6 linked regions of the Homo sapiens genome follow. The protein of the gene in region 1 interacts with the protein of each later gene in a pairwise test. Each region holds a gene or a part of one and is shown on either strand. Other genes may lie near its edges. The genes, in order: CELF1, R3HDM2, IFI27L2, CUX1, CXXC5 and GRAMD1B.

Region 1 (3,500 bases):
TCTGTATTGCTAGCATGATAGTCAGCACATAGTAGGTGCTCAGTTAATGTTTGTCAGAGAAATAAATGAATGCATGAGTTACTGACTCTTCTCTTACCAGGTTGTGCATTTGTGACTTTTACAACAAGAGCCATGGCACAGACGGCTATCAAGGCAATGCACCAAGCACAGACCATGGAGGTAGGGAGCAGATAGGTGATGGGGAAAATTCCTCAGCTTGGGAATGCTGGGACAGTTGGCCATTAAAGTCCAGCAGCATGTGCAGCATCTGATTGCCCAGAAGGTTAAACAGCCAACATCTTAAAGTTAAAAACCACTGATTTCTTTAAAATTAACGTATTGGAAATGCTCTCCCTACCCCTTTTTTTGAGATGGGGTCTTACTTTGTCACCTGGGCTGGAGTGCAGTGGGAATATCATGGCTCACTGCAGCCCCAACCACCCAGGCTCAAGTGATCCCCCCTACCTCTGCCACTCAAGTAGCTGGGACTACAGGTGCACACCAGCACGCCCAGTTAATTTTTGTATTTTTTTTTAATAGCGACCGTTTTGCCATGTTGCCCAGGCTGGTCTAAAATTCCTGGGCTCAAGTGATCCACCCGCCTCAGCCTCCCAAAGTGTTGGGATTACAGTCTCTTCTCTCTTGTGTCTATCATGAGGAGAATCATTTGGCAGTGAATGAAATTAGAATGTAACCTGCATGTCATCCAAAAGGAAGATTTTTTTTCTTCTTTTCAGATGGAGGAATTTGACCCTTTCGTTATGGTCTTTTCACAGGGTTGCTCATCACCCATGGTGGTAAAATTTGCTGATACACAGAAGGACAAAGAACAGAAGAGAATGGCCCAGCAGCTCCAGCAGCAGATGCAGCAAATCAGCGCAGCATCTGTGTGGGGAAACCTTGCTGGTCTAAATACTCTTGGACCCCAGTATTTAGCAGTGAGTCTTTGTGGTTTGCTTTCTGCAGACTGTGCAAGCTCCCAGCTGTTCCTTCTTCTGCTGTCCCTAGCCAACAAACACAGTGGCATTTACAACTTTTGGCATATAGAAATTATATGTAAAAATTCAGGTAGTACTATTTCTTTTAGTCCTGTTAGTCTCTTTCTCTCTCTATATATATGTATCTCTGGACATGCATCTCTGGTTATATCTTGAGGCTTTTGCTGCAACTAAAGTGAATTCCTGGTTTCCCGTTTTAAAGATTTAGAAACATCTTGTGTCCTTGCCTCCAAGAAAGAAATTCCTGAGGGAATCTTAACTACCAGTGTCTTTCTCCATATCTCTTTCTACCAGATGTAGAGGGCATCATTAAAATCCTTATTGAGTCTTTCCTAAAGAGTATGATAAATGTTTCTTTCAGCGGACTTGAGAGATCAAGAGATTTTTTTTCTTTTTTTGCTTTATTTATTTATTTATTTATTTATTTTTTGAGACGGAGTCTCACTCACTCTGTCACCCAGGCTAGAGTGCAGTGGCACAATCTTGGCTTACTGCAACCTCCACCTCGGGTTCAAGTGATTCTCCTGCCTCAACTTCCCAAGTAGCTGGGACTACAGACACACACCATCACACCCAGCTAATTTTTGTATTTCTAGTAGGGATGGGCTTTCACTGTGTTGGCCAGGCTGGTCTCGAACTCACGACCTCAGGTGATCCACCTGTCTTGGCCTCCCAAAGTGCTGGGTTTACAGGTGTGAGCCACTGCGCCTGGCGGAGATCAAGAGATTAACATGAACATTTTTAAATGAGCATTACAGGTGTATATTCAAGTTTACTACATTGTAAATAGACTTCCTTTAATTTGATCTCTCTGTTGTCGTGAGCCAAAAGAAGGTTGTCTAGTCCAAAAGAAGGTCTCGCCCCAATTTGTGATTTAGATTTACTAGGTCTGCAGTGTATATGTTACAGGGGATTATTAATGGAAAAGAATTGGGCCAGCACAAGACAGTTAAAACCACCCATTTGTGAGTCAAAGAGGAAAAAGGTCATCTTAGGCTATTAATGGTGAAACCACTAGATTTGTATGGATGATACAAAAATATTCACATAGAAATAGCTAGTATAGTCATTTATTCCTCATCATTTCAAGTATTATTCTGTATGGAAACAGACAAAAGGCACTGATTTCTGTCTCCCAGTACTGAATTTTGGTTTAGTTCCAGTGGTTTTCATATTTCTAATATCTTATAAGAAATCCCAGTTTAGGCCGGGCGCTGTGACTCACGCCTGTAATCCCAACACTTTGGGAGGCTGAGGTGAGTGGATCGCCTGAGGTTGGGAGTTTGAGACCAGCCTGGCCAGCATGGTGAAACCCTGTCTATACTAAAAATACAAAAAAATTACATGGGTGTGGTGGCAGGTGCCTGTAATCCCAGCTGCTCGGGAAGCTGAGGCAGGAGAATGGCTTGAACCTGGGAGGCGGAGGTTGCACTGAGCGGAGGTTGCAGTGAGCCAAGATCGCACCATTGCACTCCAGCCTGGGCAATAGAGCGAGACTCTGTCTCACAAAAAAAAAAAAAAAAAAAAAAAAAGAAGAAGAAAAAAAAAAAAAACCCCAGTTTATCCTAGCTAGTATTTCTCTGAAGTTTTTTTAAAAAAATATAAAGAGTTGGGGTTGTTTTGTTTTGTTTTGTTTTGAAGCCTCGCTCTGTTGCCCAGGTTGGAAAACAGTGGCGCAATCTCTGCTCACTGCAACCTCCAACTGCAAGCAGCTGGGATTACAGTCATGTGCCACCACGCCTGGCTAATTTTTGTAGTTTTAGTAGAGACAGGGTTTTGCTTATGTGAGCCAGGCTGGTCTCAAACTCCCGACCTCAAGTGATTTGCCTACCTTGCCCTCCCAAAGTTCTGGGATTACAGGCGTGAACCACTGGGTCCGGTTATATTTCAACAGAAAAAATTGTTTCTTAGTGCTGAAACATTGCTTATATGTTCAGAAAATTCAGGGAGGTTTTAGTCATCTGCAGAAATGATAATGCTTTGAAAATGGTCTACATGCTATGCATTTGCTTTTCTTAGAGACTTTTGGAGCCCCCCTTTAGGGAAGGTTAACCTTTTTGTTGTCATTGCCACTACCAGCAAGTACATGATGGCATGTGTTGAGAGCTGTGTTCTCTTTGTTTTGGTTAGACATGATTCCTGCCCTAAGAGCTAATCTCATTTGGAGGGAAATGAAGGGACCAAGTACAGTATTCACCGTCCACCAGTTAGGACTGAACACATAGCCCAAGGTGTTTAAGAAGAAAAAGGCCAGGCGCGGTGGCTTATGCCTGTAATCCCAGCATTTTGGGAAGCCGAGGCAGGCAAATCACCTGAGGTTAGGAGTTTGAGACCAGCCTGACCAACATGGTGAAACCCCGTCTCTACTAAAAATACAAAAATTAGCTGGGTGTGATGGTACACACCTGTGGTCCCAGCTACTCGGGAGGCTGAGGCAGGAGAATCGCTTGAACCTGGAAGGCGGAGGTTGCAGTGAGCTGAGATCACCATTGTACTCCAGCC
Region 2 (3,390 bases), on another chromosome or scaffold:
GAGTTGTTTCTCTTCCTAAATCCTTTGGCTCTCAACTGTGTCTCACAGATAAATGGGACTACTAGGTCCCATCATCCTTGAAGAAAGGCTCTATCCACTGTAGACAACAGTCCTATGAAAATGACCAGGGAAGAAACTTACAGACCCTTATGAATGTCTTTTATCTCTCTTTTTTTTTTTTTTTGAGACAGAGTTTCACTCGCCACCCAGGCTGGAGTGCAATGGCATGATCTCGGCTCACTGCAACCTCTGCCTCCTGGGAAGCGATTCTCCTGCTTCAGCCTCCCGAGTAGCTGGGATTACAAGCATGTGCCACCACGCCTGGCTAATTTTTTTTTGTATTTTTAGTAGAGATGGGGTTTCACCACGTTGGCCAGGCAGTCTTGAACTCCTGACCTCAGGTGATCCGCCTGCCCCGGGCTCCCAAAGTGCTGGGATTACAAGCGTTAGCCACTGCGCCCGGCTGTCTTTTATCTCTTATATAGATTCTCCCAACCCCTAAACCCAGGGTTCAAGTTTCTGACTCATGTGAGAGGCAGTATAAGCACAGTAGACAAGAGCATAGTCGTGGAGCCAGACTGCCTGGGTTAAAATAGTGGCTCTGTTACTGGAAATATGATCTAACGTTGGGTATTTTTTTCCCTCATTAATGTTGCTGGAAAGGTTAAACAAATATAAGACATGTAAAGCATTTATAGCAATGCCTGGTACATATTAAGTACCATTAAGTGTTACCTATTATTGATAAATATTACATTTCAGAGCACTTTAAAGTTTTTAAACTACATTCTCATTTTTATACTGCTTGTGACAGCTAAGGCAGAAAGCAGATAAAATTCCCATCTTATGTGTGATTAACCCCATTTTACAGACTAGGAAGTGAGGTCTACTTCTGAGTTTAAGTAACTTGTTGAACATCACAAAGCTAGTTAGTGGTGAGACTGGAACTTCTGAAACCAAATCTAGTGGTTCCTTTTCTAAGACCATACCGTTTCTTACAAAATCCCACATTCCCAGCCCTCAGACTTGGTACTGATATTAGGTTAAACTCTTTGGTCATTAGAAAGTTCAGTGAACTTATTTTCTCCAGCTCTTTTTACCTACTTGGTTGTAAGTACTAAGTATGTAAAGAAGGCTAAAGAAAGTTAAGCATGGACAGCACTAGAGAGGGGCAAGTGTCCAAGGCCTATACAGGGATGTTAAAGGAAGAGTTAACTCCCAGAATTGGATCATCTACACTGGTCCTCTGCCTGTTGTTACTCTTTCAATCTCTGCAATTGGGAATGGGATGTGAAAGGTGAATTCCATAGCAGCCAGCACTAATCTAACCCCCTACCCTGTGCTGGACCCCCAGGCCGGGGGAACTGTGTGAGGACAGGCAGGGGACTGAGTCCTGTGCAGACACTGCTGAGGCTGGTGACAGGAGAGGGTGCTGGAGACTGGGTAGGAGATGTGACAGGGCTGCTGCTCATTTGTGTGTTGGCCTGTGGAAAAGAGGAGCACACGTCACATAAACATCAAACATTACCCTCTGGATATTCCTATGGCTTGGCTTAAAATTCACCTCTCTCAGGAAATAAGTTTCTCTTGCTGAACTCTGCCAAAGTCAGACTCTTCCTTCAAACTGCAACCTCAGTCCTTAATTCATTTATGCTATTTTATTTATTTATTTATTTATTTATTTATTTATTTATTTATTTATTTTGAGATGGAGTCTTGCTCTATCACCCAGACAGGCTGGAGTGCAGTGGTGCAATCTTGGCTCACTGCAACCTACACCTCCTGGGTTCAAGCAATTCTCCTGCCTCAGCCTTCTGAGTAGCTGGGATTACAGGTGCCCACCATCACGCCTGGCTAATTTTTTTATTTTCAGTAGAGACGGGGTATCACCACGTTGGTCTCAAACTCCTGACCTCAAGTGATCCTCCCGCCTTGTCCTCCCAAAGTGCTGGGATTACCGGTGTGCGCCACCATGCCTGGCCCATTTATGTTATTTTAATATCCATTTCTGGCATATTGATTTAAGTATTCTCTGAGCATTTTCAAGTGTGTATCCCACCTGCCACCTTATATATTAGGTTCCTTAAAAGAGGATGCTGTCTACTTCCTGTGTTTCTCCCCAGAAAGTACCCAGGAAAAGACATGTAAAAGAGGCTGCTCAGTCAATAGCAAACATTGCGCCCCGGGAAGAATACGGTCATCTCCTTGCCAAGACAAGGCTGAGTGCTGCACTCACCTGGGGGCTGCTGTCAGGACTGTACAGGTCTCCAGGCTTCTGCCCCCGCTGGTCCATGCTGTAGTATTTACAATGACTCCACTGGACCATGGATGGGTTCTGAGGGGGCTGGGGTCCATTAGGGACATTCAGCTGCATGACCACTACACCTGGTCCAGAAGGTGACACTCCTGAAGGGCAGGAAGAAAGCAGTTGGTTACAAATTCCAACTGTATTTTTGCCTTCCAACTAGCCCTGAGTGGGAAAGCAGCAAATAAATCCACCCATTGCCTCAGGGTCACTCAAGCTACGTCTTGCCAGGAACCTGAGATGGCTGCTGATGTGGCTTCTGACTCCATCTTCTCAAACCAGTAGAAGTTTGAGTGGAAGGGATATGAGCCCCAGATGCCAGTGCTCCCCTGGCCTTCACCTGGTGAGGGGTACTTTGGTATGCTTGGCAGAAAACTACTCCATTCTGTCAACGCTGGCTATAACCAAATGCCCAGGTCAGATTGCTCAAATGTCTAGGCATGGTACGGGTCCAGGTCTGGGCCACAGGCCAGGGCTGCAGACACGTGCAGGCTTTTCTGGTAATGGCTATAGATAAGGCAGTGACCTCTGGTTGTTCTGGAGAAGATAAATCCACATAGTTTCACTATGCCAGACCCAGAAAGTACATCTTGGCCAAGAATGGGGTAAGCTGGGAAGCATTTTAAGCATTTAAGCATGGAGATGTATGTCATATTCAGGAACTGACAAATGATTCAAGGTGCTAAGACACAGGGGCCATATAGGGGAAGCAGTAGGAGATGAGACACGTTTATTTAACAAACTCTTATTGAACATTTGCTATGTGCTAGTTCCTATGTTGGGCACTGAGTGTACAAAAAACAAGGCTGTCCCTGCCCTGATAGAATGGACAGTCTATTAAAGAGTCAGACATTAAACAAATAGTTGGTGTCAGAGTTTGAAGCATATTCTGGTAAGATGTTTGGACTTTATCCTGTAGGTGTTGGGAGACCTATGCTTTGGAGAGCTAACTCAAACGGCCAAATGTAGGATAGCTAGGGAGAGAGACCAGCAGCAAGAAAGACCAGTCAGGAAGCTACTGAAGGTCGGGCACAGTGGCTCATGGCTGTAATCCCGGCACTTTGGGAAGCCGAGGCAGGTGGACT
Region 3 (3,584 bases), on another chromosome or scaffold:
CCACATTTTGGTGACCATTCCTGACTCAGCCTCCTCCCCTCAAAGTGCCTAGAGCCTGCATGTAACACTGGACACATTGTCTTTTCCTGCTGGCTTGCTTATCGGCCTTCTGACAAGACTTTGAGGTTAGGCAAGGGAAGGATGGTGTCCTGCTCATTCTGGGTATCTAGTGCCATTAATGAAGAACAGAGGGCTCTACAGTCAGTGGTTCCTGAAGTGCCCTGGCTACCCCTCACCCCTGCCTCCCAACAGGAGCCTGTGACAATGCCAACATTGAATAAGGGGGAAACTGAGGCCCAGAAAAGGCCCACGAATGGCCCTGGGTCACACGGCCCATCTCCGTAAGGCTGAGACCAATCAAAGCCTTCTGCCTACCGATTATCTGCGTGGCCAACCACCTCCCTCTGCCCCTCCATGACAGGGCAGTCTAGGAGAGAGGGAGAACTGGAAACCTCCAGCTCAGAACACCAACCAGAGCTGCAAGAAGCAAAACAGGGAGATGCATCTGCATGTGACCTTTATTCCTCATGTTTCTCTGACTTGAGTGGGGGTTTTGGAGGTTCACCTTGGGGTACATTTTCTCTTGCCTCATCTTCTTTAGCCTCGGGTTCAGCTGGGAGAGAAGAAGAAGGTGAATTCCCCAAGCAGGCCCCCAACACTGACCCAACAGAGGCCAGGAGGATGTTGGATGATGTGGAGAGTCCAGCTGCCCCTGTGGAGGAGACAGAGAATGAGCACAGGGGTCGGGCAGTGGCCCAGAAATCCCACCCGGATCCCTCCTCCAGGTCCTGAAAATCCCAGGGCTCTGCCATGGGTAGAAGCTGCTAGAGGCAACTAAAAGACAGCTCAGGGGTGAATTCACGGAAACTGAGAGACAGAGGGAGAGTCATCCACAGACAGACCCTAAGAGCTACAGAGCCCCTCACTTTACACAGGAGGCCACTGAGGCCCAGAGAGGACAGGGGACCTTGCCCAGGTCACCCAGGTGTCAGAACCCAGGCATTGCTCTTGGCCTAGGTTCCTTTCCTCTTCTCCCTACCCAGCACCCCATCACCCCTCCACTCCTACCCCAAACCTCACTCAGAAGGAGCCAGAAGAGGGGACAGTGAGGGAGAGACTGAAGACCCAGGAAGCTGAGGGTCACGGAACTTCAGGGTGAGAAGAGCTTCCCTCGGGCTCAGCCTCAGGGCTGGATCTTCTCGCAGCTCTGGTGGTCCTGTCTAGGACACTTACCCACGGACTGCAGAGTAGCCACCAGGCTCCCCGCAGAAACACCACCCCCGTTGGCAATGGCTGCTGCGGACATCATCTTGGCTGCTATGGAGGACGCGGCGATTCCTGCCCCAGTGAAGCCCATGGCACTGAGCACCACGGGCACAGCCCCCACTGCCAGGGCTGTGGGGAGAGAGAAGCTGAGTGCAGAGGTGGGCTCAGGAGAAGGGACCCTTCCCCCCGCCCCCCGCTTAGGAATTCCTTGACAGTTTCCGGAGACTGTCAGCTTGAGCAATACAGAGATGGCAACTTAGTGGTCTTCTGGTGAAGAAAAGGTGGAGTGTGGAGCCAGGTGAAGCAAAGATGTCATAGAAGGACCAGCCATGGCCCTGGTTTGTCTCTAACTTGCTGTGTGATGCTGAGGAAGTCAATACCCTTCATTGGTCTCAAATTTGTGTGTGTGTGTGTGTGTGTGTGTGTGTGTCCACGCATAAATGTGAAATAAGCCACGTGGAGTTTAGCTGCAAATCCTCTTTCAAACGATCTTCCTCCTATGCTTATTCGACATAAGGACTAGAAGAGAAGCTGGGTCAGGAATGGGAGTGAGCTTTTCCCTGGAGTATTTTGATGCTGTGGCTCACTCAGGCTACTCGGGCAGCTTCGGAAGTGGAGGGTGAGAGCCAGCCCAGCGCCTCATCTCTGCGTTCTCCCAGCAGCCCGGGGACCAGGCTAGGTGAGGGCCTGGAGACAGGCGATCCGGGTAACTTACCTCCTCCCACTGCAGCAGCAGCTGCCCGTTCTAGAGAGAGAGTGCCAGGGGAAGGCAGAGGGAGATGGGAAAGGGGAGAAAGAGGAGAGAGAAGGGCAGAAAGGGAGGGAGGGGGAGGGAAGCAAGGAGCGGAGGGAGGAAGGGAAGGGGAGGGAGGAAGGGAGGGAGAGGGAGTCAGTAGGTCAGCTGGTTGATGAAGTCAGGGAATGAAGCTATTCCCTGTCCCTTCCTGGGCTGGGGTTGGGGAAGCCTGCCCCCAGCCCAGCCCGCCAGCCCCCTGGGGAAGCAAGACTCACTCATCATGGTGAGGCCGTCCGGGTCCCAACTTGGCCCAGGAAATGACAGCGTTCTTGGGGTGTTACTTCCCCCTCCATCCAGTAGGGACGCGCCTACTCTGCCCTAGAGAGACGCAGGCCCCGCCCCCCGCCCCACCCCGCTCGCCCGGGAGCCTTCGCGACTCCCCGGCTCGCCTGTCCCGGCTTGATGGATCTACCGAAGAGAAAAGCGCTGGAAAGAACCTGGAAGCCATAGCAAGTGAGCCCCGCTTCCAAATTGCTGTAGCACCGCCCCCCACTCCAACCCCGCCAATAACAGAAGAGCTGTTTGCTGCAAAAACCAAAACCAAAAACAACACAACAATAACAAAGAAACAAACAAAATGCAAGGAGAAAAATGATGTTTAATTTAATAAACGATGTTTAACTTCCAGAGAGACACTAATATAAATACATTCTGGCACGTTTGCTCCCAGCCTATGTCTCCCCTGAATATGTAAACACCCCCTCCACCACTTGCCAATTTCCCTTCACACTCTGCCTTGCAAATTACTTACTTTAGTTAATCAACCATTTAGATTTCCCCAGGCTGCTTAATATCCTTCATCAAGATTTTTAAAAAGTCAAGTTTATTAAGGTGTAGGTGATTTACACAAAGTAAAATTCACCCTTGTAGTGTACACTTCTGTGAGTCTGGGAGGCTTTGACGGCTCTGATTCAGACCGTTTTTTTTTTACATGCCCCGCCCCCTCCTCCATCAATCCTCTCATGCGCTTTTGGAGTCACCCACGCCCTGCTCCTGGCAACCATCCCCGCCCATTTGCCTTTTCCAGAACTTCAATATGATATTTGTCATTAAATATTCCATCCCCTTGGGTTCAACGTATCAGCCCTCCCTTTTAAGTGTTTAAAGTCTAATTTTTGCTCTGATAAGTTATTTTAGCATGAAGTGCTAACATTATGGGGCACAAGTGTTTTCTGTATATTCCTGGAGGTGGAACTGCTGGGTCAGAAACTGTGCATTTTTTACAGCACCTGATACCTGTGTTGTTATGTTGGCATCCAAAACTATTGTCATCAGTTTACATTTTCCCAGCAGTATGTGAGAGAATCTATTTTTTTTCTACTCCTCACTAACAATTAGCTTTGTCGTTAAGAAACAATAACACAAAAACCCTTTGTTGATTTAATAGGTGACTTATTTTAATATACTTTTCTCTTCACCACTAGTGAGACTAAACTATTTTTAAGTGTATTAGCTTCATGTACTCCTTATTTTGTGAGTTATCTTCTCATATTCTTGGATCCTTGTTCTACTGAAGTATTTT
Region 4 (3,500 bases), on another chromosome or scaffold:
CGCAGAGGCCGTGGCTCTGCTGCAAAAGGAGATGGGGGAAATCTAAGTAGCGACCTACGGCATTGAGGCCAGGGAGGTCCATGGGAGGGAGGACTGCCTTGAAGGAGGATCACCCGCCAGCCCCCAGAACAAAGCTCGCATTAATCATCCAAAGACATTCAATTTCGGTTAACATCCTCATAAAACACTGCATTTTCTTGGTGCAAATTGATGCTGTTCAAAACATCTCCCTGCTCTGTTTGAGTCTAAATTTCAGGGTGTTTCAAACATGTCTGATGAAATGACCTCTCAATAGCTCTGTTGATGTGGCACATTGATCCCCTGGTCTTAAACAGAAAAGGAACTTTCTTTTTTGTTTTTTTATTTGAGGCAGGTTCTCACTCTGTTGCCCAGACTGGAGTGCAGTGGCTCAATCATGGCTCACTGCAGCCTCCACCTCCTGGGCTCAAGCCATCCTCCTGCCTTAGCCTCTCAAGTAGCTGGGACCACAGGTACACGCCACCACGCCCAGCTAACCTTTTGATTTTTTTGTAGATCAAAAGATTACAAAATATATGTTGCCCAGGCTGGTCTTGAACTCCTGGACTCAAGCGATCCATCCACCTCAGCCTCCCAAACTGCTGGAATTATAGGCGTGAGCTACTGTGCCCGGCTGGGATTTTTTGAAATTATGAATGTGACTGACATTTTATCTTTTTACGGAGGGTGGGGTAGAAAGGGTGCTTAAATAAAACTTTTGTGTATTTTACTCAAGCCAGGCCTGTTTTACTCATAATGCTAAACAAATCACTAATGGACCGTGAACAATGTAGGGAAGGTGGCCATGGGACACGCCCTCTTCTGCGGGGTGGGAAGAGGGGAGGTGTCATCTGTGATGTGTTCTCCCTACAGAACCAGCTTTGCATGAGGATCGAGCCCAGTCAACGTTGCTGCTATGGGGCTGGAGGGGACTTAAGGGCTCCTCCCAAAAGTGAGACCAGCACCCAAGGCCAATTGGACCCGCGGCCACTAAGCATACGGAGACGCTATACATCATGTAATGCAATTCCCTCTGATACGATCTCTAGTATTGAAATACTATAGGGTTTCCTAAGTATGGAGTGCTGAGTGCGTTTCAAAGGCCAGATCTCCCAAATCTAACAGCCTTAACTCATGCCGGGCCACCCTTGAGCTCTGGACGTGGCAGAAGCAAAGAGAACTTTACCTGATGTGATGCACAAATGTTTCATCACGCACACAGACACACGCACGCATGCACACACACATGTGCAACTCTGTGACGGGCTCGCACGCTGGCGCCACCCAACGCCAGTCTCTCACCTCTTTGTCTGCCTTGGATGCTACGGAGGGCCAGGATGTTCTGCTCATCGGAGAGGAACTGTTTCATCTTGTGAAATGGCTCCTTGCCACGAACAGTCAGTTTATTCCATGGCTTGGGCCGGGCCAGAATCTCGCTCACGGACCCTTGAGACAGTCCCAACACATAATGTCCGAAAATACGTTGTCCGATATTGTGCTTAATCAGCTGCTCTTTGACCTGCCGGGCGATTTCTGCAGTGTCCATCTCCTCGCCCTCGGAGACGCTCCCAGCACTTTCTGACTGGCTGGGGGATGGGGCCATGCCATTGACATCTGGGCTTTGTTGTAATGGACTTTGGGAAGATATGGAGTTTGTGCTGTATGGACCTGTTGAAAAAATCATGCTTGTGCTTCCGGCTTCCTGCATAGCCTTGGAGTAGAAGGACTGCATTAGCTGCCGCTGGAGAAGAGAGTTTAGTGCAAATTTTCCTGTAGAAGCCAGGGGTAGGCTGGGGCTTGCCAGGGATGAGCTGAAAAAGTCTTGACTTAACCCCGCTGGTGAGAACTGGTGTGTACCATTAGTATTGGAAGCCTGCTCCCCCGGGTTGCGGGGCAACTGAGAAGGAGGGGGGGCCGGCAAAGATCCCGGGCGCCGACTTTCAGGCTGGTCTTTCCCTTTCCTCCTGGCTGACCCTACAAGGAAGGGCAAACAGAATGCATTATGGGGGATTCCAAAGGGGGAAAAAAAAACCAAGACCAAAATGCAAAAGTTTGCCCCCGCAAAAGGGAAAACAAAAAAAAGTGCAGGTTTTTTTTACAAGGGCCAATGAGGTGGGTTGGTTTGTTTTCCGATTAAATTTGTAAGTCAGCCAAACGAGGCTTCCCAAAACAAGCAACATGCATTCATGTTTGCGCCTTTCTTGTACGTTGCAGCCTGGAGAGTCCCCTTGACATAGACTCAAACTCCTAGCGTGACAAGGAGCTGGTGACACACACAGGGAAGAGTTGACGGGTCGCGGGCCTCTTACTGGGCCCGCTGGCCCCGGCCGGAGGAGCAGCAAACACTGACATTTTAGGACCAATGGATTCGCTCGCACCTCTTGCTCTGAGGCGATGCACCGTACCGAGCCCCCTCGATGTGGAGGCGCGCGCCCGTTTTGAGAATGCAATACCATTAGAGCCCGAGACACCTGTACGCGTTTTACCAGCTGCCCAAACCAGAAGCACAGTCAAGTGACGCCACCATTTGGGGGATGAGCCAAGAAAGGCTAAGGATGGGGGACGCGTCCCCAGGGGAAACCTGACCAAGGAAGAAAAACCTCTACTGGACCCGGCAGGCCCGGGGCTGTCCCTGAAAACACCACCAGAGCGAGGCTGGGTTCACACTGCCCCTGGCCTCTGTGCAGCACAACCAGACACAGATCAGAAAGGCCGACGTCCTCCGAGCTGTCCCTCCCGGGGATTCCAGCCGCACTGCCCCTAACTGACCTCCGCAGAGCCTGTGCGGCTGGCCCGTCTCGACATCCAGCTTTAAGCAGGGCGGGGAAGGGAAGGGAGGAGCGGTGAGGAGGAGGGCACCCAACACGCGTTAGTCAAAGGTTCTCGTCAACCGGCGCTTCTCTGGCCATGCATCTGTCCAGACTCACGATTCACCTTCCTCGTCCTCGACCGACCCCTGGAAGCGAACCAACCACCGCACACGCGCGAAGCCCGGCCAACCTACCGCTCAGGTCGCTGTTGGAGATGCGCAGCGCGGCGTTCTCGGACTGCAGCGAGCGGTTCTTCTCCAGCAACAGCACCTCCAGGGGCTTGGCCGCATCCTAGAAGGGGCAGAGCGGGGGTCTCACTGCGGGGCCGGCCACTCACCCGCTCCCGGGGCCACCAGGCCTGGAGCCCTGCCTCCCTCCATCTGTCCGCGTTCCCACCCAGCTCTCGATCTGATTAGGAAGTGGGCTGCGGACAGCTGATTTCCCCCCAAGTCGTTTAACACACGTGGAAAACAAGTTCCCTTTAGAAAGAATGGATTCTAGTTGAAGTCATTTTCCTTCTTAGACTTCCACAGCTCCTAAAAAAATTAATTATTCTCTCATCTGTTCTCAAACTCAAGCGACCTGAGCCCGTGCCTCATTTGGCCATAAGACTGGCTGCCAAGCCACAAACGTCTGTCCGAACGTTACTGTAAAGGGAACTTTTCTTTTTTT
Region 5 (4,052 bases), on another chromosome or scaffold:
ATGGAGAGGGAGGCCAAGGCTGACTAGGGGCGTCCCTGGGAGAGACCCAGCTACTGCGAGGATGAGGGGTAGGGGGGTTCTACCCAAGTTCCGGGGGCTGGCTGGGAACTCGGAGGCCAATCTCCTTCAGCTGTTCCCATCTCTTCCCAGGGCAAAAATCAAACCATCACCCCCTCTCCCTCCTCCCCAAGGAGAGGACAATTTCCGTTCTGGGAGGGGGGTGACAGCTGCAGAGCGGGCCACTCCCCACCCCCCCAAGCTCCAGCCTGACTCTCATCTAGGGAAACTGCTAAATCAACAATACGCAGTTACGGGTAGGTAGCCCGCCGGCCTGAGTTTCCCCGCACGGCTCTCAGAAAGGGGTTTAGAGGGGGCTTCGGTCTCAGTTCCCGGTTTTCTAGTGGCGGTTGGAAACCAAGGCACGGGCATCTTTCAGGAGGGGGATCAGGTGAAGCTTAGGCCAGTAGGTCCCCCAAGACGTCTAATTTAAATACTCCCAACTGCAAAGGACAGACGCCCCCCACCCCGCGGCCTGGGGCAGCTGAGGTGGAGCCGGGCGTTCAAATCGCGCTCCAAACAAGTCCGCAGCGACCGCGCTCGCAGCCCCCGCCAGGCGGCCCCAGCGGAAAACTTGAAAGGGACTCTGTTTGCCGGCGGCCCTGGGGCGGCTCCGGCGGGGGCGAGGGCCGAGCGATCTCACACACGCCCCCTCCCCAACGCTTCCAAAGAAAATGCGGGGGTGGGGGGGACAGGGCCCACCACAAATCCAAGGGCTCCAAACAGCGCCCGCCGCGCGAGGAAAGGTGGGGGTCAGGAGTCTGGTCCGCTGGTCACCCCCTTAGCTCCCCCCCCATCCGAAGGCGCGACTCTCAGACCACCCAAAGTCCAGGGGGCAAAGGAGGGCGCGGTTGCCAAACCTTCAGACCCCCGTCGCGGGAGACTTCAGGGAGCGGGTCTTTCCGAATGAGTCACTACAGAACCCCCCAAATTTACTGGTGCTTCCTTGCAGCCCGAGGCACCAGCCCAACTCCGCGCACCCCTTCAGATTCCCGGGGGGGAAAAAAGAACAAAAAGAGATCTTGCTCCCACTTTGGGCGTTTCAGCTCTTCTGACAGGTCCCGAAGGTGGCCCCCCATTTAAAAACCGGGGTCACTCGCTTTCCGTCGATCCTACAAATAAACAAAGCCAGGCGCACCCCGCGCTCCCCGCCGGAAAGCAGCCCATTCCGGGCGAGGACAACTTCCCCCAGCCAGAAAATTAACACATTCCTCTCGCGGCGGTTCAGCCCCTCACTCCGCTCCGGGGAAGCGAAGGGGAGGGGGGTCGGGCCGAACTTCATGGGTAAATTTGGGGCCAGTGCAGCGTGGCAGGCGCCGGGGACGTACGCCCCCCACAGTTCCGCAGCTAGAGGAACACCCCCATTCTCCCTCCCAGGCTCTGCACGCTGCGTGGCCCACGCGGGGCTCGGGAGACAGCTCAAAAGACTCCCCAAGGCTGGGAAAGGAGGGAGGGAGGGGCCGCGGGGCACCGTGGTGGTGGGGGAGATACTTTGATGGAAAAAAAAGGTCAAACTTCATCAGCCCGCCGGGCACCCCGCGGGCAGCGGGGGCGAGGAGCCGGAGGAAAAATGCAGAAGTAGCCGCCGCTTCTTCCAAGTGGTGGGGGAGGCTCAGCCACGCGTGGTCGAGGGCGCCCAGAGCAGTTAACGTCGCCCCTCAACACAGGGCTGCGAGCGGGGTCTGATGGGGGGAGTGCGCGCCAGAGATCTACAAGCAGCCGCCCCCGCAGGCTGAGCGCCCGCCCAACGCCAAGAGGTGAGGACCCCGGGCGCCCGCTGCCCCAGCGCCCGCGAACTGGAGTAGTGGGGGGGAGGGGGGCGGCACCCCGCAAGGAGCGTCCCAGCCCCACTCCACGGCGCCCAAGCCGCCGTCCCAGACCCTAAAACCCCTCTTTTTGTCTGAACTCAGTGATCTGCGACCGAGCATACTGCGGCTTAGGGAGGCTTGGGTATAGCAGCGGCCACCAAGCGATCACCGGCGCTAGGTCTCCCAGGCTCCGGGGCTCCGCGGCTTACGGTGCGGGCGCCCCCCGCCCCTCCCAAATACGGACCCCTCCTTCCCCGTCCCCGGCTCTCCGCACCTGAACTTCGGGGGAACCCGCGCAGCCAAACTTTCCGCCGACTTGCAGCGAACTCCGGCCCCGGCCGCGCACCGAACCCCGGGGGAGGAGAGGGAGGTAGGCGGGGAAGGGGAGGGGGCCGGCCTCCGGGGGGGGTCGAGGGAGGGCCGTGGCCCGACACCTACCGGCTCTCCGAGTCGTCCAAGCCGCCACCGCCGCCGTCGCCGCGAGGCCGAGGGGGAGGGGCGGGGCAGGGAGCTGCGCTCCGCTCTGGGCACCACCGCCGCGGTGCGCTCCGCTCCAGCCGCCAGCAGTGCCCGGGTCCGGAGCCCGAGTCGCGCCGCCGCGGCTGGCCCGAGGCGGGGAGGGGGGGGAGCCTGCAGCACCTGCCCCTCCTCCCCCTCCCCGCGGCCCAAATTAAAAAACAACAAAAAGCAACTAATCACCCCCGAGCTGAGCGCGGCTCGCGGGCGGAGGGCTCAGCGTGCGGCGCCCGGACTCAGCAGGCGGCGCGCATGGCTGGGCGCGGGCTGGGCAGGGCTGGGACGCGGGGCCCGGCTTCAGGGGATAAGGCTCTGCCGCTCTTCTCGCTCGGCTCGGGCGTCTGCTCTTGCCGCCAGTGCCGCCTCTGCTGCCGCCGCCTCTACATCCCCGCTCAGGCTCAGCCGCCTCTGCCGCCGCCGCCGCGCGCCCGCCCGGGCAGGAGCTATGAACGCTGCCCGGGGGCTGCCGGCAAAACCCGGACCGGACTCGCCGCTCCCTCCTCCCCCCAACCCCCTCCACCTCGGCTCCCCTCCCTCCTCCCGCCGCCTCCCTCCCAGCGCAGCTCGGGCCACTTGGACGCCGCGGGCTCTGAGGCCGGAGCTGCAGCCGCTGCGCCTCGAGCTCCCCGCGCCCTGACGCGGTCCACCCAGGCTCAGCTCCCTTGCGCGCCCCGTCTTCGCCTATTTCCCGCAACTTTACAAAAAAAAAAAAAAAAGGACGACCTCCCCGCTTTGGTGAGGCGGTCTGGGTTTAGAGACGCACCTCCGGGGAAATCTGCTATCTTTCTGCCCCCTCTAGAGCGGGGCCAGAAGCTTCGAGGACCGGGAGGGAGAATTTGGCCGCGCCCCCCAGCTCAGGTGCGCGGCGGGCCAGAGATTCCTAGTCGAGGGTCCTGGGAGGTAGACGCGTGTTCCAAGACCCCACCCTTCCAAGAGCTCCTTAATGGATTCAGTGGGCACTAGGGCCCCGGGAGAAAAGGGGCGGAGATTCCCGTTCCCATTTCTCAGGTGAGGAAACTGATCCGAGAAAGGATATTTTATCTCTCAGGCAGGCATCAGCCTCAACTCTTGAGTCCCGGGGCTAAAACGACTACGTACATTTGGTGCCCTGAGACCATGGCCTACGCACTCAAAACCCGAAACAATGCTTGGAACAGCAGCGCTCAATAGGTACTGATTGAAAGACAGAAGGAAAACTCAGCCTTGCCAGAGTAGGCGCCCAGTGGGGACAGAGTTGGGCCCGCATATCCCGCTTTCACTCCATCAGTGGCCTCCATATGCCCATCTTAGGCTAATTAATCCTGCTGCTGCAGATGTCTTCACCTCACGTACCCATGGTGCAAGCCCCGGGCTCATATAATCCCAACTGCATATAATCCCAAAGTGGAAGTTTTCTCCAATTCTTTGGGATTCGTGGGGGCGGATTTGTGCAAGGCCGACCTTCCTCTGCGAGGCGAAGAAAACGCAGTCCCCAGACCCAAGCAGGGGAGGGAGAGGGGGAGGGCGGTTGGGGAAGTCAGCCTAGGGTTAAACGTTACAGCCTGAGATCGATTGGGGCCCAGATAACAGGGAGTTAACTGTGGCGATCCGGGCGCCTGCAGCCACAGGCGCGGCCTCGGTGGGAGAAGCGAAACTGTCTCCCACCTCGCTGCTTCCTCTCCTCTGCTCTGC
Region 6 (3,500 bases), about 76 Mb from region 1:
AATAAAAAAAAATTGTGCCGTCTTATGTTCAATGGTAGTTAAGATGATGCTTTGCAGTTAGACCACTGAAAGAAAAGAGCAAGACTCCAGGCCTTCACCTCCCCACGCTTCCTCCCCACTACACGGAACAGCAGAAAGTAGTTGCCTCGAGCAACACTTTGAGAGTGTCTCTCCCAAGCTCCAGAATCTACGACAGCTCCTCATTGAATTGACTTCACTTTGCCTAGGAAGCGCTCTGCATATAGGATCTCAATACCTGTTTGATGACTGAGTGATTCATTGAAATTCAAACTCTTTGGCATAAATCACCTTCGGTCTGTCAGCCTCACCACCTTCATTTTTCCACATTCCTCAACAAGATCACATTTGGTCATCCATCTCTATCTTCAAGCCAACACATCCAAACTGCTTTCACCTATAGGCATTTGTTAACCCTTCAAAACTCAGCTCTCTATAGATCAGTGGTTGTCTAGGGCTGGGGAAATGGGATGGAGAGGGTGAAGGTGCTAGCCAAAAAGTATGAGTTTCAGTCAGGCACAGTGGTTCATGCCTGTAATCCCAGCACTTTGGGAGGCTGAGGTGGGCAGATCATGAGGTCAGGAGTTCAAGACCCACCTGGCCAACATGGTGAAACCCTGTCTCTACTAAAAATACAAAAATTATCTGGGCGTGGTGGCGAGCTTCTGTAATCCCAGCTACTCAGGAGGCTTAGGCAGGAGAATCACTTGAACCCAGGAGGCAGAGGCTGCAGTGAGCCGAGATTGAGCCACTGCACTCCAGCCTGGGTGAGAGAGGGAGACTCCGTCTCAAAAAAAAAAAAAAAAAAAAAAAGTATGAGTTTCTTTGTGGGGCAACAAACGTTTTTAAAAACTGACTGTGGTGATGGTTGTACATAGCTGTGAATATATTAAAAACCACTGAATTATGCTTTAAATAGGTGAATTGTATATTATATAAATTATATCTCAATAAAGCTGTTTTTAAAAACTCAGCTCTGTACTCATCTCCTTTTGGAAATTTTCCCACACTCATGAATAAAAGAATTTCACTTTAAACAGTAGAGAAAAAGGAATCATTTATTTACTCATTATTAACTCATCAACAAACATCTATAGATCTATAGATCACTGTAAGAGGTCAGGTACAGTGCTGTGACGATACAAAGATGAACATGATTGGTCTTGGAGTATTCCAGTGAACACTGGAAAGTTAGTAAGCCATGCTGTCTTTACCATTTGTTCCACTTCTTCCTTCCTAGGGTTTAAGGAGAAGAAAAGGGTCTCCTAATCCTCTTCATATTTTCAACTTTGTGCAGTGAAAATCCGCAAGCTTGAGCTTCAAGTCAGTGACAAGTAAAAAAACAAACAAACAAACAAATAATGAAACAAATAATGAAAAAACAAAAATTAAAAGAAATCCACAAGCTATGGCCCTCTCAGCCACTTAACTTCTACCACATCACGCTGAATTTCATAGCAAGCCTGAAAGGTGTTTTTCTCTCTTTTGGAGCAGGAGATTTGGGGTGGGGAATGTGGAGACGTCATGCTGGGCCTGGTATGCTAATCCTCCCTAATCCAGGCCAGAGCAGAGCCATTTTCCAACCATCATTTCCAAATCCTGAATTGTGTGAGGAGGCTCAGGTGCTGCTCCAGGACACGTGAGTATGTAACCTCATACTTTTAAGCAAACATCCATTCCATGTGAGAGACTCACAGAGTAATGAAATAAGCCTTCACCCTTGCACAGCAAGAGGAAGTTTGCAAAACATTTTCACATTCACTACTCTTCAGACTTCCCATTAACCCACAGAGATCCTCTTCCACAAATGAAGAAGGTGAAACTCATGGAGGTAAAGTGAAATGCTCAAGCTAATCTCCATAGCTAATCGATGATAGAACTTAAATATACAGCTGTCTTCTGATATTAAGTCCAATGTTCCCTGCACTCCATTGCCTCTAAATGCCAATTCTATTTTCTTTTGGAAATGGAGTCTTGCTCTGTCGCCCAGGCTGGAGTGCAGTGGTGTGATCTCAGCTCACTGAAACCTTTGCCCACAAAGTTCAAGCAATTCTCATGCCTCAGCCTCCTGAGTAGCTGGGATTACAGGCGCGCACTACCATGTCCAGCTAATTTTTGTATTTTTAGTAGCAACAGGGTTTTGCCATGTTGGCTAGGCTGGTCTCGAACTCCTGGCCTCAAATGATCTGCCTCCTCAGCCTCCCAAAGTGCTGGGATTACAGGCATGAGCTACCACACCCCGCCACCAATTCCTTCTCAGGCCACTTGGTGGTATCTACGAGCACCTATTCACTTGATTGCTGCTTTTCTTGGAAGGAAGCCTTTCATCTTCGAGGCCTAAAAATGATGGGGCTTTGTTTTACACACAATCCAAATAGATTCCAACAGAAGGCAGTATAACAGTAGCTAAGAGTAGATGTGAGTCACACGAATTTGAATTTGAATCCAGAGTCTGCCTTTTCAGATACATATGTTCTTGTTTTTTGTTGGTGGTGGTTTTTTTTTTTTTTTTTTTTTTTTGGAAACGGAGTCTCACTCTGTTGCCCAGGCTGGAGTGCAGTGGCGAGATCTCGGCTCACTGCAACCTCCACCTCCTAGGTTCAAGCAATTCTCCTGCCTCAGCCTCCCGAGTAGCTGGGACTACAGGTGTCCACCACCACACCTGGCTAATTTTTGTATTTTTAGTAGAGACGGTGTTTCTCCGTGTTGCCCAAGTTGGTGGCTAACTCCTGAGCTCAGGCAATCTGCCTGCCTCATCCTCCCAAAGTGCTAGGATTACAGGCGTGAGCCACTGCGCCCGGCTGATACATAGGTTCTTCTAATCCAAAAGTCACCACTTAAAATAACTGCCTGAACTACATCTAGATGAAAATCCTGCCAAATTTTAAGGATATGTCCCCAAATCCAACAAAATGAAGGTTCCACTACACACATAGACAACTCTCGAAACCAGGAATACCTTCCTAAATCTAACCAAATCTACTGTCATCCCCATCCTAGCCAGCAATGCAAGATTTTTTTCTTCATACACACAAAGACACACACACACACACACACACACACACACACACGCACGTAACATTTTAAGCGTTGGGGGTGGGGGTCTCACCATGGCTGAAATGCAGTGGTTATTCACAGGCACCATTATAGCCTACTAAAGCCTTGAACTCTTGGGCTCATGTGATCCTCACACCACAACCCAAGTAGCTGGGAATACAGGCCATGCCATTGCACCCGGCTCTTTTTACCATATTTTGTCCTCAGTATATATGGCAGAATCTCAAGATCAAAAGAAGGTCTCTTTTAGTTTCTTTTACATTGGAGGGAAAAGCCGACAAGCCATGACAAACTACTTTATTTATTTATTCATTTAAGATGAAGTTTCGCTCTTGTTGCCCAGGCTGGAGTGCAATGGCGCGATCTTGGCTCACTGCAACCTCCACCTCCCGGGTTCAAGCAATTCTCCCGCCTTGGCCTCCCGA

The links.
Region 2: the proteins of CELF1 (region 1) and R3HDM2 interact in a two-hybrid assay, tested with the Homo sapiens proteins (one large-scale study listed by IntAct).
Region 3: the proteins of CELF1 (region 1) and IFI27L2 interact in a two-hybrid assay, tested with the Homo sapiens proteins (one large-scale study listed by IntAct).
Region 4: the proteins of CELF1 (region 1) and CUX1 interact in a two-hybrid assay, tested with the Homo sapiens proteins (one large-scale study listed by IntAct).
Region 5: the proteins of CELF1 (region 1) and CXXC5 interact in a two-hybrid assay, tested with the Homo sapiens proteins (one large-scale study listed by IntAct).
Region 6: the proteins of CELF1 (region 1) and GRAMD1B interact in a two-hybrid assay, tested with the Homo sapiens proteins (one large-scale study listed by IntAct).

What each region holds. Positions count from the first base shown.
Region 1 is NC_000011.10:47,480,133-47,483,632, reverse strand, and holds part of CELF1 (CUGBP Elav-like family member 1), read left to right. Parts: intron 1-100; coding exon 101-180; intron 181-776; coding exon 777-938; intron 939-3,500. UniProt on the Homo sapiens protein: RNA-binding protein implicated in the regulation of several post-transcriptional events. Involved in pre-mRNA alternative splicing, mRNA translation and stability.
Region 2 is NC_000012.12:57,256,654-57,260,043, forward strand, and holds part of R3HDM2 (R3H domain-containing protein 2), read right to left. Parts: intron 2,407-3,390; coding exon 2,237-2,406; intron 1,485-2,236; coding exon 1,337-1,484; intron 1-1,336.
Region 3 is NC_000014.9:94,127,281-94,130,864, forward strand, and holds IFI27L2 (interferon alpha-inducible protein 27-like protein 2 precursor), read right to left. Parts: upstream 2,325-3,584; 5' UTR 2,285-2,324; coding exon 2,278-2,284; intron 2,012-2,277; coding exon 1,982-2,011; intron 1,396-1,981; coding exon 1,234-1,395; intron 713-1,233; coding exon 519-712; 3' UTR 501-518; downstream 1-500. UniProt on the Homo sapiens protein: Plays a role in the apoptotic process and has a pro-apoptotic activity.
Region 4 is NC_000007.14:102,195,126-102,198,625, reverse strand, and holds part of CUX1 (Homeobox protein cut-like 1), read right to left. Parts: intron 3,120-3,500; coding exon 3,023-3,119; intron 1,993-3,022; coding exon 1,321-1,992; intron 1-1,320. UniProt on the Homo sapiens protein: May be involved in intra-Golgi retrograde transport.
Region 5 is NC_000005.10:139,647,097-139,651,148, reverse strand, and holds the start of CXXC5 (CXXC-type zinc finger protein 5), read right to left. Parts: upstream 2,801-4,052; 5' UTR 2,304-2,800; intron 2,199-2,303; exon of another isoform or gene 1,968-2,198; intron 1,815-1,967; exon of another isoform or gene 1,421-1,814; intron 161-1,420; exon of another isoform or gene 1-160. UniProt on the Homo sapiens protein: May indirectly participate in activation of the NF-kappa-B and MAPK pathways. Acts as a mediator of BMP4-mediated modulation of canonical Wnt signaling activity in neural stem cells.
Region 6 is NC_000011.10:123,433,269-123,436,768, reverse strand, and holds part of GRAMD1B (protein Aster-B), read right to left. Parts: intron 1,336-3,500; coding exon of another isoform or gene 1,302-1,335; exon of another isoform or gene 1,054-1,301; intron 1-1,053. UniProt on the Homo sapiens protein: Cholesterol transporter that mediates non-vesicular transport of cholesterol from the plasma membrane (PM) to the endoplasmic reticulum (ER).